Regions from separate parts of the Homo sapiens genome. Here region 2 is linked to region 1. Evidence: fine-mapped expression QTL. A gene starts in region 1. The other region holds a variant in brackets. All regions are shown on one strand. Distances are from middle to middle.

Evidence for each region.
Region 2: its variant is fine-mapped to the expression of ELF4 in whole blood (TOPMed, PIP above 0.99).

Annotation. Positions count from the first base shown.
Region 1 is chrX:130,108,051-130,113,423 of GRCh38, forward strand. ELF4 (E74 like ETS transcription factor 4) reads right to left here and starts at 2,447. Exons shown (of 9, transcript NM_001421.4): 1 at 2,275-2,447. It also overlaps a transcript of RAB33A not described here. RefSeq lists silencers at 2,329-2,398, 2,479-2,628, 2,879-2,928, 2,939-2,988, 3,059-3,178.
Region 2 is chrX:130,327,397-130,332,769 of GRCh38, forward strand. It overlaps the pseudogene LOC112268303. Among named protein-coding and RNA genes, the nearest start is that of SLC25A14, 9.8 kb to the right of the region's middle. The variant C/T (reference allele first, on the strand shown) is at 2,759.

The DNA of each region.
Region 1 (5,373 bases):
ATACAAAATTAGCCGGGCGTGGTGGTACATGCCTGTAATCCCAGCTACTCGGGAGGCTGAGGCAGGAGAATCACTTGAACCTGGGAGGCGGAGGTTGCGGCGAGCCAAGATCGTGCCATTGCACTCCAGCCTGGGCAACAAGAGTGAAACTCCATCTCAAAAAAAAAAAAAGAACTGGAGGTAAGGAGTTCAAGATTACAGTGAGCTGTGACTGTGCCACTGCACTCCAGCCTGGGTGACAAAGTGAGACCCTGAATTAAAAAACAAAAACCAAAAAAAAAACAACACTCTAAACGCAAAAACAAAAACTGGATGTAAAATTACATTGCGGGGGTAGGGGATGTGGAAAGGAAGAAGGCCAAGCTTAAGAGCAGAAGAGCAGAGGTTTCCCCAGGAAAGCAAACTCCTCAGCCTGTGTCTAGCTGGGTCTGTGCGGCACAGGGCCTGATTTTTGCAAGATGAGGGGCATTTTGGACATGCTATCACTCAGGCCCCTAGAGACAGACCACAGCACCCTCTATTTTAGATCCCAATATATGCCAGAGAAGACAGAAGCCACTGTGTCACCACTTAGCACTAGGTGAGGGAGAGTGAATTTTGGGCCCCTAGGTTGTCCAGGGGTGGGCGCCAGTTCCTGAGCAACCACCGAGCAAACAGTGCAGCACAGGGAGGAATGCCAGACATAGTTGCAAACAAGCCACTCCTTCGGCTCACAGCAAGAGGCTGGGTGAGGGTGGTAGCATGGAGCCTGCTTCATGGTCCCCCCCACCCCTGCCCCCAACAAGAGATCCCAGGCTCTGAATCCAGCCCCAAAAACAACCAGATGCAAGGTAGCCTCTTCCTCACACCAGCTGGCTGGGATAGGAAGTCCTCCCTGATAATCTTCACTGAACTCCAGAGAGCTCCCCCTACGCTGCTCCTGTACTGGATGCACTGAATCTGAATTAATGGTTGAGAAAGCACTTTATAACCAGGAAAACCCAGTGTAACTAACTGCAAGGAAGGACTGGCATTCTTGCTGGGCATATGTGTTCCCCGGGCATTTTCAGTGCCAAAGTCTCCCCAAAGGGAAGAGCTAGAACTGTTCCCTTCACCCACCTCCAACCTGGCACTCGGGCCAGGGGTCAGCTGGCAGGGGGTGAGTCCCCAATGGGCGTGCCCACCAGCTGTTGGGGCTGAGCAGTGGTGGTTCAGGCCCTGGGGTGGTGACCTCACTTCCGCTCCTACCTCCCCACCTCCCCAGCACTCCTCCCATTTGAGGCCCCACCAGGCCAAAATCGAGAAGTCCAAGGTTAACTGTTCTTTCCCACTTTAAGAGCTAATTAAAATAATTAGCCACAATGAACTGTCAAACATTAACCAGAAGAGGCTGCAGGACCAGACAGGCCTCTATCACAGGCCGAGGGATGAGGGGCAGGAATCAAATGGCCATCAAATCCCTCAGCTGGGGTATGGTGCGGGGCGGGGGCGGCCCAGGAGGACCTCGCTGAGCCGAGGTGCCAAGGGGTCAGGAGGTGACTCTGGTCAGGAAGGTGATGTGCAGGCATACGGTGGTGAGAAAAGGGAGTCAGGGTTAGGGTGCGGTGGAGGAGCCAGGAATTCATAAAGCGGTCACCGCCTCAGCAGTCCCTCAAGCCTCCAAAGCAAGGCGCTGGCGTGAGGGGACCCCGCACGGTGCGGCTGCTGAATCCCCTAGGCGGCGGCCCAGGAGGGAACCCGGAGGCGGGAGAGTCGGGGAGAGCGGGAACGCGGGAGCGGGAAGGCTGGCGGCTGGCTCACACGGAAACTCCGGCCCCTGCCAAGAGGTCTCTATTTTGGCGATCCAGTTCTCCACATCATAGGTCTGCGTGCGCGTGTGTGCGTGTGACCCTAAAGCCCTGGCCCCAGAAGCCCCGGGGGCAGTCGGATCCATCTAGCAGCTCCGCCGCGGTCCGCCCCACCTCCTCTGCCCTCGGGCGCCCAGCTTCTGGGGGCCCGCTGTCATGATCGGCCCCGTCACGGAACCCAGGCTGCCGGGGGCGAGGGAAAACAGGGGCCCCTACCCCGACTCCCCGACTCGGGGAATCCATTCCACTTCCATCCCGGGATCGGGAGCCCGGGTTCTCCATCACACGCGCGGCGGGGCGACTCCAGGGCGGCTCGCGACACTCCGCGACTCTCCCGCCCTTCCCTGGGCCCCCAGCCCCACGCCGGGGCCCCGGCGCTCTCGATTCCGCCCTCAAGCAAACTTTTCCACGTCCCCCAAGGCTCGAAGAACCGGCGCCATCGACGTACCTGAGGCCGAGTGGCTCACGGGCCCAGCTCGGTCGCCGGGCCGGGGTCTGTCTCCGTGGTCCCCGCTCCGGGGGCCGAGACGCGGGTCCCCAGCCCCGCCAGCCCGTCCTCTCCCCTCGGAAGCCGGGCCGGGCGAGCGGCGCCAGGAACTCGGCGCCGGCGAAAGGAGAAGTGGAAGTTGAGCGCGGCGCCCGGTCGGTCCCCGCGGCCGCCGGGGCCGCCGTCCCCCGCCCTCCTCCCCGCCCGCCCTTCTTCCCCGCCCGCCTGCCCCCGCCACCCCGCGCCCGTGACTCACCTCGGCGCCGGGGCAGGCTGGTCCGGGCGGGCGAGGCGCAGGGCTCTCCCACACTTCGCGCCGCCAATGGCAAGTTGGAGGGAGAGATGCAAATACCAGGTGAGACGGCGGCGCCCCTGATAAAACGGGGCGGGGGGCGGGGTGGAGCGCGCGGGGAGCGGGGCGGACGCCGGGGAGGGCCGGGCCAAGACACGGGGCGGCAGGGGCGCCCGGGGAGGGGGCGCGAACCGGCGCAGACATGCACCGAAACGAGCGAGCGAAAGGGGAAATGCAGTAGAGACACACACGTCCCCGCAGGCGGCGGATGGGGCGGGCGCGAAGGAGGCAGGGCGGGAGGGAGGGAAGAGCCGGAGGGAGGGACCGACGGGAGGGACTGCGGGCGGGCGGGGTGGGGGAGGGAACGAGGGAGGGACGAGGCATCTCGGTGGAAACAGCGCCCGTCCGCCCCGGCCCGCCCGCCGCGGTCGCCAGCACGGCATGGGGAGCCGTGCCAGGGGCCCGCGCGGCCTCTCATTCCCCTCGCGGCTCGCTCGCGCCCGGGGGACCACGAGGCAGGGCGCCCGCAGAGCCCGCGTCGTGCGCCGCGGCCCGGGCGGGCGCTCCCCACTCTGCTTCTAGCCAGCGAGACTCCGAGCTCTCTGCTCGTTCCGCGCCCTTCCCGGTGCGAAGCCCCCATACAACGCCCCGCAGAGAAATCCCTTCCCCGCGGACTCGGGAAGGTTTCGTCCAGCCCCCTCGGCCCGTGCAAGTGGAGACTTGCTTGACGCCTTTGGGCCAAGCCCTGCGCTCCACATTATTGAGCTCCTGGGGTGTGCAGGCCCCAGCGGGAGGGCGGGCCGTGCGGCGGGTGAGGCCGCGAGATGCCCAGAGGATACAATTTTGGAACCATATGCCCGACTCCGCAGAATCCTGGGCGTAACACCTGGGGTGACTGGAGAGTTTCGGCGACTTCTTAGGGAAGTCGAGTCTAGGACTCCTGCGGGAAGTTGGGGTGGGGGACGCTGGCAAGATATGAGTCAGGGGAAGGGCTAGGGGGAGAGGGGCTGGCCCAGCAAGTGCAAAGAGAGCCAGAGTTCGGGTGCTGGAAGAAAGCCCATGCCTACCTTTCTTCCCCTGTCCAAAGCCAGGCTGCTCTGCTCCACGCGCCCACTTGAAAGCCACTCAGGCACGCTCCCCTTCTATCTCCCCTTTGCCCTCTCTGACCTGCCTCAACATCAATACCGCCGCCTACGTGGGTCTGCTGATAGGAGGCTCTGGAGAGAGTGCGCTGGGAATTGTTACTCTGTATAGTTCCACGTGGCCTTTTTGGGGGTGGGGGCAGCAAGGCCTAAGCCTTGGCAGAAAGCATCAAGACTGAAGGAGCCCCAGGGGATGGGGCCTTCTAAAGGGCTTGAGGTTGAAGGACCTACTCAGCCTCCAGCATCGGCCTGCTTCTCCTGCCTTGGGAAAGGATCATCTCAGGCGCAGGACTGGGGGACAGGAGTGGTGGTGGATGATGGCCACAAAGGCAGCTGCAGATTACAAGTTCCCAAGGAAAGATCCTGTGGCTGGACTGGGGCGCCGGCCCCTGAGACCTCCTGGATACTCAGAATCAAGTCCCCAAAACAAGCACTTTGTCTTTTCCAAGCGGGCATGCTTTTCCCAGGGGATTCCAGATCCTGGAGACACACAGTTCTCTGCTGGCCTCTCATCCACGAGGTCCCCTCTCAAATTTGGGGTAGGTTCCGGATGTCCCTAAGCCCTCTTTACCTTGACTTTGAAATTCACGAATGGACAGACACGTCTGCACACGCGTGCACACACACACACTTTCCCATTTTGCTAAGAGCTCAGTGGTCTGTAACCTCAGACAGACCTGGGTTCCTATTCCAGCTCACTATTTACCAGCTGTGTGACTTCAGGCAAGTCACTTAAACTCTCTGAGCCTCACTTTTCTTCTTTAAAACAGAACAAAAACAAAAACTAGGCTGGGTGTGGTGACTCATGCCTGTAATCCCAGCACTTTGGGATGCCGAGCGGGGTGGATCACTTGAGGTCAGGAGTTCAAGACCAGCCTGGCCAACATGGTGAAACCCCATCTCTACTAAAAATACAAAAATTAGCCGGTGTGGTGGTGCATGCCTGTAGTTCCAGCTACTCGGGAGGCTGAGGCAGGAGAGTCACTTGAACCTGGGAGGCAGAGGTTGCAGTGAGCCGAGATCGTGCCACTGCACTCCAGCCTGGATGACACAGTGAGACTCCATCTCAAAAAAATAAATAAATTAAATAAATTAATTTTTTTATTTTTGTTTTTTATTTTTATGGGTACATTGTAGGTGTGTGTATTTATGGGTTACATGAGATGTTTTGATACAGGCATGCAATGTGTAATAATCACATCAGGGTAAATGGGGTATCTGTCACCTCAAGCATTTCTCCTTTCTTTGTGTGTTTTCTTTTTCTTTTTTTTTTTTCCTTCTTTTTTTTTTTTTTTTTTTTTGAGATGGAGTCTCGCTCTTTCTCCCAGACTGGAGTGCAGTGGCGCGATCTCGGCTCACTGCAAGCTCCACCTCCCGGGTTCATGCCATTCTCCTGCCTCAGCCTCCTGAGTAGCTGGGACTACAGGAACCCGCCACCATGCCCGGCTAATTTTTTGTATTTTTTAGTAGAGGCAGGGGTTCACTGTGTTAGTCAGGATGGTCTCGATCTCCTGACCTCGTCATCCACCCGCCTCGGCCTCCTAAAGTGCTGGGATTACAGGCGTGAGCCACTGCGCCCGGCCTCTTTCTTTGTGTTATATACAATCCAGTTATACTCTTTTAGTT
Region 2 (5,373 bases), 220 kb after region 1:
TATTGATTTTTTCCCCTTACCATTATTATTTCCTTTCTTCTGCTTACTTTAAGTTAAATTTGTTATTTTTTTTTTGTTTCGTTTTTTGTTTGTTTCTTAAGAGCAAAGCTGAGGTCATTGATTTGCGGGCTTTCAGCTTTTCTAATATAGGGATTTAGTGATTTGAATACTCTTCTGAGTACTGCTTGAGCTGCATCCCACAGCTTTAATTATGTTGCTTTTTCATTTTTCTTTTAGTTTACAATACTTTATAGTTCCCCTTTCAATTTCTTGTAGCAGTGAACTTCAGGGACATGTGTGGAATATCTGTGCCCAGTGAAGGCTGTTTCAAGTCTCAAGGTCTGAGGCTCTGATGGAATGCTTAGTCATATATGCACAACTGGCCATGGCAATTGAAACTCAGGAGGCTGGGCGCGGTGGCTCATGCCTGTAATCCCAGCACTTTGGGAGGCCGAGGCTGGCAGATCACTTGAGGTCAGGGGTTCGAGACCAGCCCGGCCAACATGGTGAAACCCTGTCTCTGTTAAAAATACAAAAATTAGCCAGGCGTGTTGGCATGTCCCTGTAATCCTAGATGCTCGGGAGGCTGAGGCAGGAGAATCACTTGAGCCCAGGAGGCAGAGGTTGCAGTGAGCCGAGACTGTGCCACTGATTGTGGTCAGGACTCCAACAACGAAACCAGGTTCACATACATCAATCTTGATGTTTGGGCAAAGCAACCCTAACAAGATGCCATGGCATGGTGCGTTACTCCAGGTGTACAGAACAAAACAGTCAATCCATCAGTGACCTAAAGAACATGCTGAAGGCTACATTCCCAAGGGGTGGCTTGGAGACATGCAAGGAGTAAGCCACCAAACATACTGTGTTAACTCCTTCTTCACAACAACCAAACAGAAGAATTCTCTATTGCTAACCACTGCCACTCTGAGGTACAGGTTAGATATGGGAGTAAGGGATGGTTAGGGATTGGGCACCATTTGGTCTACTATTACACAAAACCAGGAGTCACTTGTTTTAATGGAAGTTACTCTTTTTTTTTCATTTAAAAATATAAAGACTGGACACCTCTGCTTTGTGTGGGCTTGCTTTCCCCCGATCACGTCAACCTTTCCAGCTCTTGGAACAGAATCCAAAGTCCTTAGCATAATACACAGAGCCCCACCTGATCTCCCCACCCCCGGGGGACTCCCTGCCTTCATCTCCCACTGCCTTCCCCCTTCATGGCTCTGCTCCAGCCATGCTGGCGAACACACACCAGGCCCCTGCCTGCTTCAGGTCTTTGCCTGGAGTGTTCTTAGAAATCCTCATCACTGTCCCCTCATCTCCTGCATGCCTCTGCTCAAAGATCACTCCATTGGAGGCCTCCTGGCCACTGTAGCTAAAACAGCTGCCCCTGCCATTCTCTGCGCCCTTTCCTCACACCTGACAATATATCGTTAACCTGAATATTTAATTATTTTTTACCTGCTCCTCCTCCAACTCCCAATGAGACTGTCTGCACCATGGGGGCAGGGACTGTTTCTGGTTCGCTGGGAGGTCCTGAAGCCTAGCACCATGCCTGGCACAAAGCTGGGGCTCAGTAAGAGCCTAATGAATGAATGAATTAGATATAGATAGACAGTAGGTGGAGGGGAAGAAGGAGGGTATTTGGAACACAGTAAGATATTTTATTTTCAGCTCTAGGCTATAGAGGAAATGCTCAACTAAATTCTTAACTTTTCTCTCAGGACTTAAGTTTCAAATGTTATATTTAATACCATAAAATTTATTTTATAAAGATGATTTGGTTTCCTCTTAGAGGCTAACCTTGTCTAATAAGTTTTTTCTTTCTTTCTTTTTCCCTGATGACAAGTCACACATTTATAGAAGAAAATTTAAATGATGCAGAAAGGAATAAAGTAGAAAGTGAAAAGTCTACTAGACTGGAGGTTAGGGATAGCTGTGTCAGCAGGGCTTATCAAAATGTCCCTGTGGATAAAATGGCCACATCAAACGGTCCTGCTCTGCTGTTTATGTTCTTTGCCTATTTTTAAAGGAAAATATCTTTGAGTGTTTGTACACTTAGAATCCAAAGTCCTTAGCATGATACACAGAGCCCCATCTGATCTCCCCACCCCTGGTACCTCCCTGATCTCATCTCTCACTGCCCTCCCCTCCCCTTTAATGTACTGTGAGCTTTACAAGTTTCTTTTTAAAAAAAACTTACAAGTTTCTTTTAACTTGTAAAGCTCACTGTATATTAAAGACAATAGCCTTTTGTCCATCAAATATGTAATCTTTTTTTTTTTTTTTTTTTTTTGAGACAGAGTCTTGCTCTGTCGCCCAGGCTGGAGTGCAGTGGTGTGATCTCAGCTCACTGGAACCTCCGCCTCCCGGGTTCAAGTGATTCTCCTTCCCTTCCTCCCGAGTAGCTGGGATTACAGGTGTGTGCCACCATGCACAGCTAATTTTTGTATTTTTAGTAGAGACGGGGTTTTGCCATGTTGGCCAGACTGGTCTCGAACTCCTGACCTCAGTTGATCTGCCTGCCTCAGCCTCCCAAAGTGCTAGGATTACAGGCGTGAGCCACCGTGCCCTGCCTTTTTTTTTTTCCTCCAATTTATTGCTTTTCGTCTAACTTGGTGGTGTTTTCTGCTGTTCAGAAGTGATTTTTCATTGAGTGGTCAGTTTTATTAATCCTTTGCTTTTACTGTCTCTACCTTTTGTAGTGTGCTTAGAAAGGTCTTGCTCACCCCAGGGTTATAATAATACTGTT[C/T]ACCTACATCTTCTTCTGGTACTTGTCATGGTTTGATTTTATTCTGTCATGTTTAAATTTTAAGGCACGCCCCTTTTTGGTGATAATAGACAGGTATTGAGTGCTTATGATGTGTCAGGCTCTGTTCCAGGTGCCTTATGTGAATCAGCTCATTTGAATGCTCAGTAAGTCCAGAGATAGGTCTGGTAGATCCTTGTTTTCACAGGTGAGGAAACTTGAAGACAGGGTGATTGGATACTTATGCAAGACCACACAGCTGGCGAAACCTGTTCTGTCAAATGCTAAAGGCTACATAGGGTTGTTGTAAGGATTAGAGTTGTTGTACGTAAAGTCTCTGGAATATAGTAGGCAGTCTATAGATGGTAGGTTTTATTAATTATTATTACATAGCTCCCATAAGCATAATTTCTGACGGCTGCATATTATTTGGAAAATTGTGTATTTCAAAGTAAGTACATTTCTAAAATATTATTCCTTTAAAAGCATGTTTAGAATTCCATGGGAACAAACAAAACTTTTATTTGAAGAAACAATTGTCATAAAAAGAAATCCCAGAAAGATTGCATTAACGTGTGTTTCACTGGGCAATGGGATTTTGTGTGTGTGTGTGTGTGTGTGTTGTGTGTGTTTAAATCTTTGTTGGCAGAGCAGAGCGGCTGGCCGCTAGAGGTCTCTGATGCCCGAGGAGCTGTCAGTGGCGTGCTGGAGAGAGCAAGGGATCACTAACACCTGAGACGGACTACAGACCAGCACGTGCCAGAGGTGGAAGTCCAAGTTAAACGCAAAAGGACCACCTCCTGAGAACCAAGAATGTCAGTTATACCCGAGGCTTCTCAGCAGCAGCAAGCACCTGTGGTGAATTTCCAGGCTGAACTGAGACAAGCATTCTTAACTGAGACATCAAGAAGTGGTTAAAGCCGTATTGGAACAGCAAGGAATCTGATTCCAAGGAAAAACCAGTCAATGTAATAAAGATGTAATCTGTAATTTTTCAATGTGATGTAGATTCATTTAGTCTGTCTTTTTATGTTTGCTGCTTTCATTTTTTAGGAAAAGGCTATTACAAGGTTGATTTTGATTTATTACTTTTTTTTTTTCCTTTGGGATTTTTCTTTTTTTCGACTTTAAGATTAGAATGCTCTCATTTCTGAGGGTTTACTATTTACTTTTTATAAAATAAGAGCAGAGAGGAAGGCGGTTTATTGATAAATTCTCTTCTAGCTTTTCTTTATGTCTTTTTGCAATATTACCCCTCAACTTGAATTAATTAGGCCAATTTATGCCACCATTTTGAGTTTAAATCCAAGGAGACAAACAGGAAATTTCTGAGAAATTCTCCTTTGTTGAATCATTTATACCCAACATTTTCAGTTTTTTTTGTTTGTTTGTTTGTTTTTTGTTTTTTTTGTTTTGAGACAGGGTCTCACTCAGTCACCCAGGCTGGAGTACAGTGGCTTGATCTCGACTCACCTCAGCCTCCGCCTCCTGGGTTCAAGTGATTCTCCTGCCTCAGCCTCCCAAGTAGCTGGGATTACAGGTGCATGCCACCATGCCTAGCTAATTTTTGTACTTTTAGTAGATATGGAGTTTTGTCATGTTGCCGAGGCTGGTATTGAACTCCTGACCTCAGGTGATCTGCCTGCCTTGGCCTCCCAAAGTGCTGGGATTACAGGCGTGATCCACTGCACCTGGCCAGTATCCAACATTTTCTAGTAATTGCATGGGCTTGGTTGCAAGCAGATGGTGGAATCTGATCATTGTCCCAAGCTCTTCCCCAAGAGTAAGACAATTTTTCATTGAATAGGTGGGTACGTTTGATTTTTTTTAACCTAGAAATTCTTTAGCTTATCAGTTCAGTTCACACATTCTTGTAAATTTCTAAGTATAATATTTAAATCATACATTATGGTCTGCAAGTAGGACCATTTAATTTTCTGATATTTAATTATATCCTATTTTATTCTAGTCTCAACTGCTAGTTCTACCTAAACAATACTAGTTTAGGATTTCTTTAGAGCAGCGGTTGGTAACATATCTGGCCTGAAATTTTATTGGAACACAACCATGTTCACTTATTACATGTGATCTGTGGTTGCATTGGTGCTACAGTGGCAACTTTGAGTAGTTGTGACTGATCGAATGACAGGTACAGCCTAGAATATTTAATGTCTTGCCATTTAAAAGAAAAAAATGGCTGAACTTTGTTTTAGAGTAGCAGATTTAAAGAAGAAAACACCAGTGAGGCTACCGATAACGTTATAGAAGGTGATGAATAAAGGATTATAGACGTTTATATGAAGTATACATTACAGGGTAGAGAATCAGATGAATTTTTTGGGTAAGGGATGACTCGAAGAATCATGTTAAAACTTGCTATATAGGTAGATGGGTAGTTTTTAAAGACATTTAAACAATTGGTACCCTTTTTCATTATGAAAATATAAGGCACATGATAGCCAGGAAAAATAGATAAATAAACCATTATGTTATGAATATCAGTTCAATTTTTGTTTGGTACCTAAAAATTTACTAGGATATGCATCAAATTGGATACTTACCCAATTGAGATGCAAGGTGTAAATATTAGTAATATTAGCATGACTTTTAAATGTTTT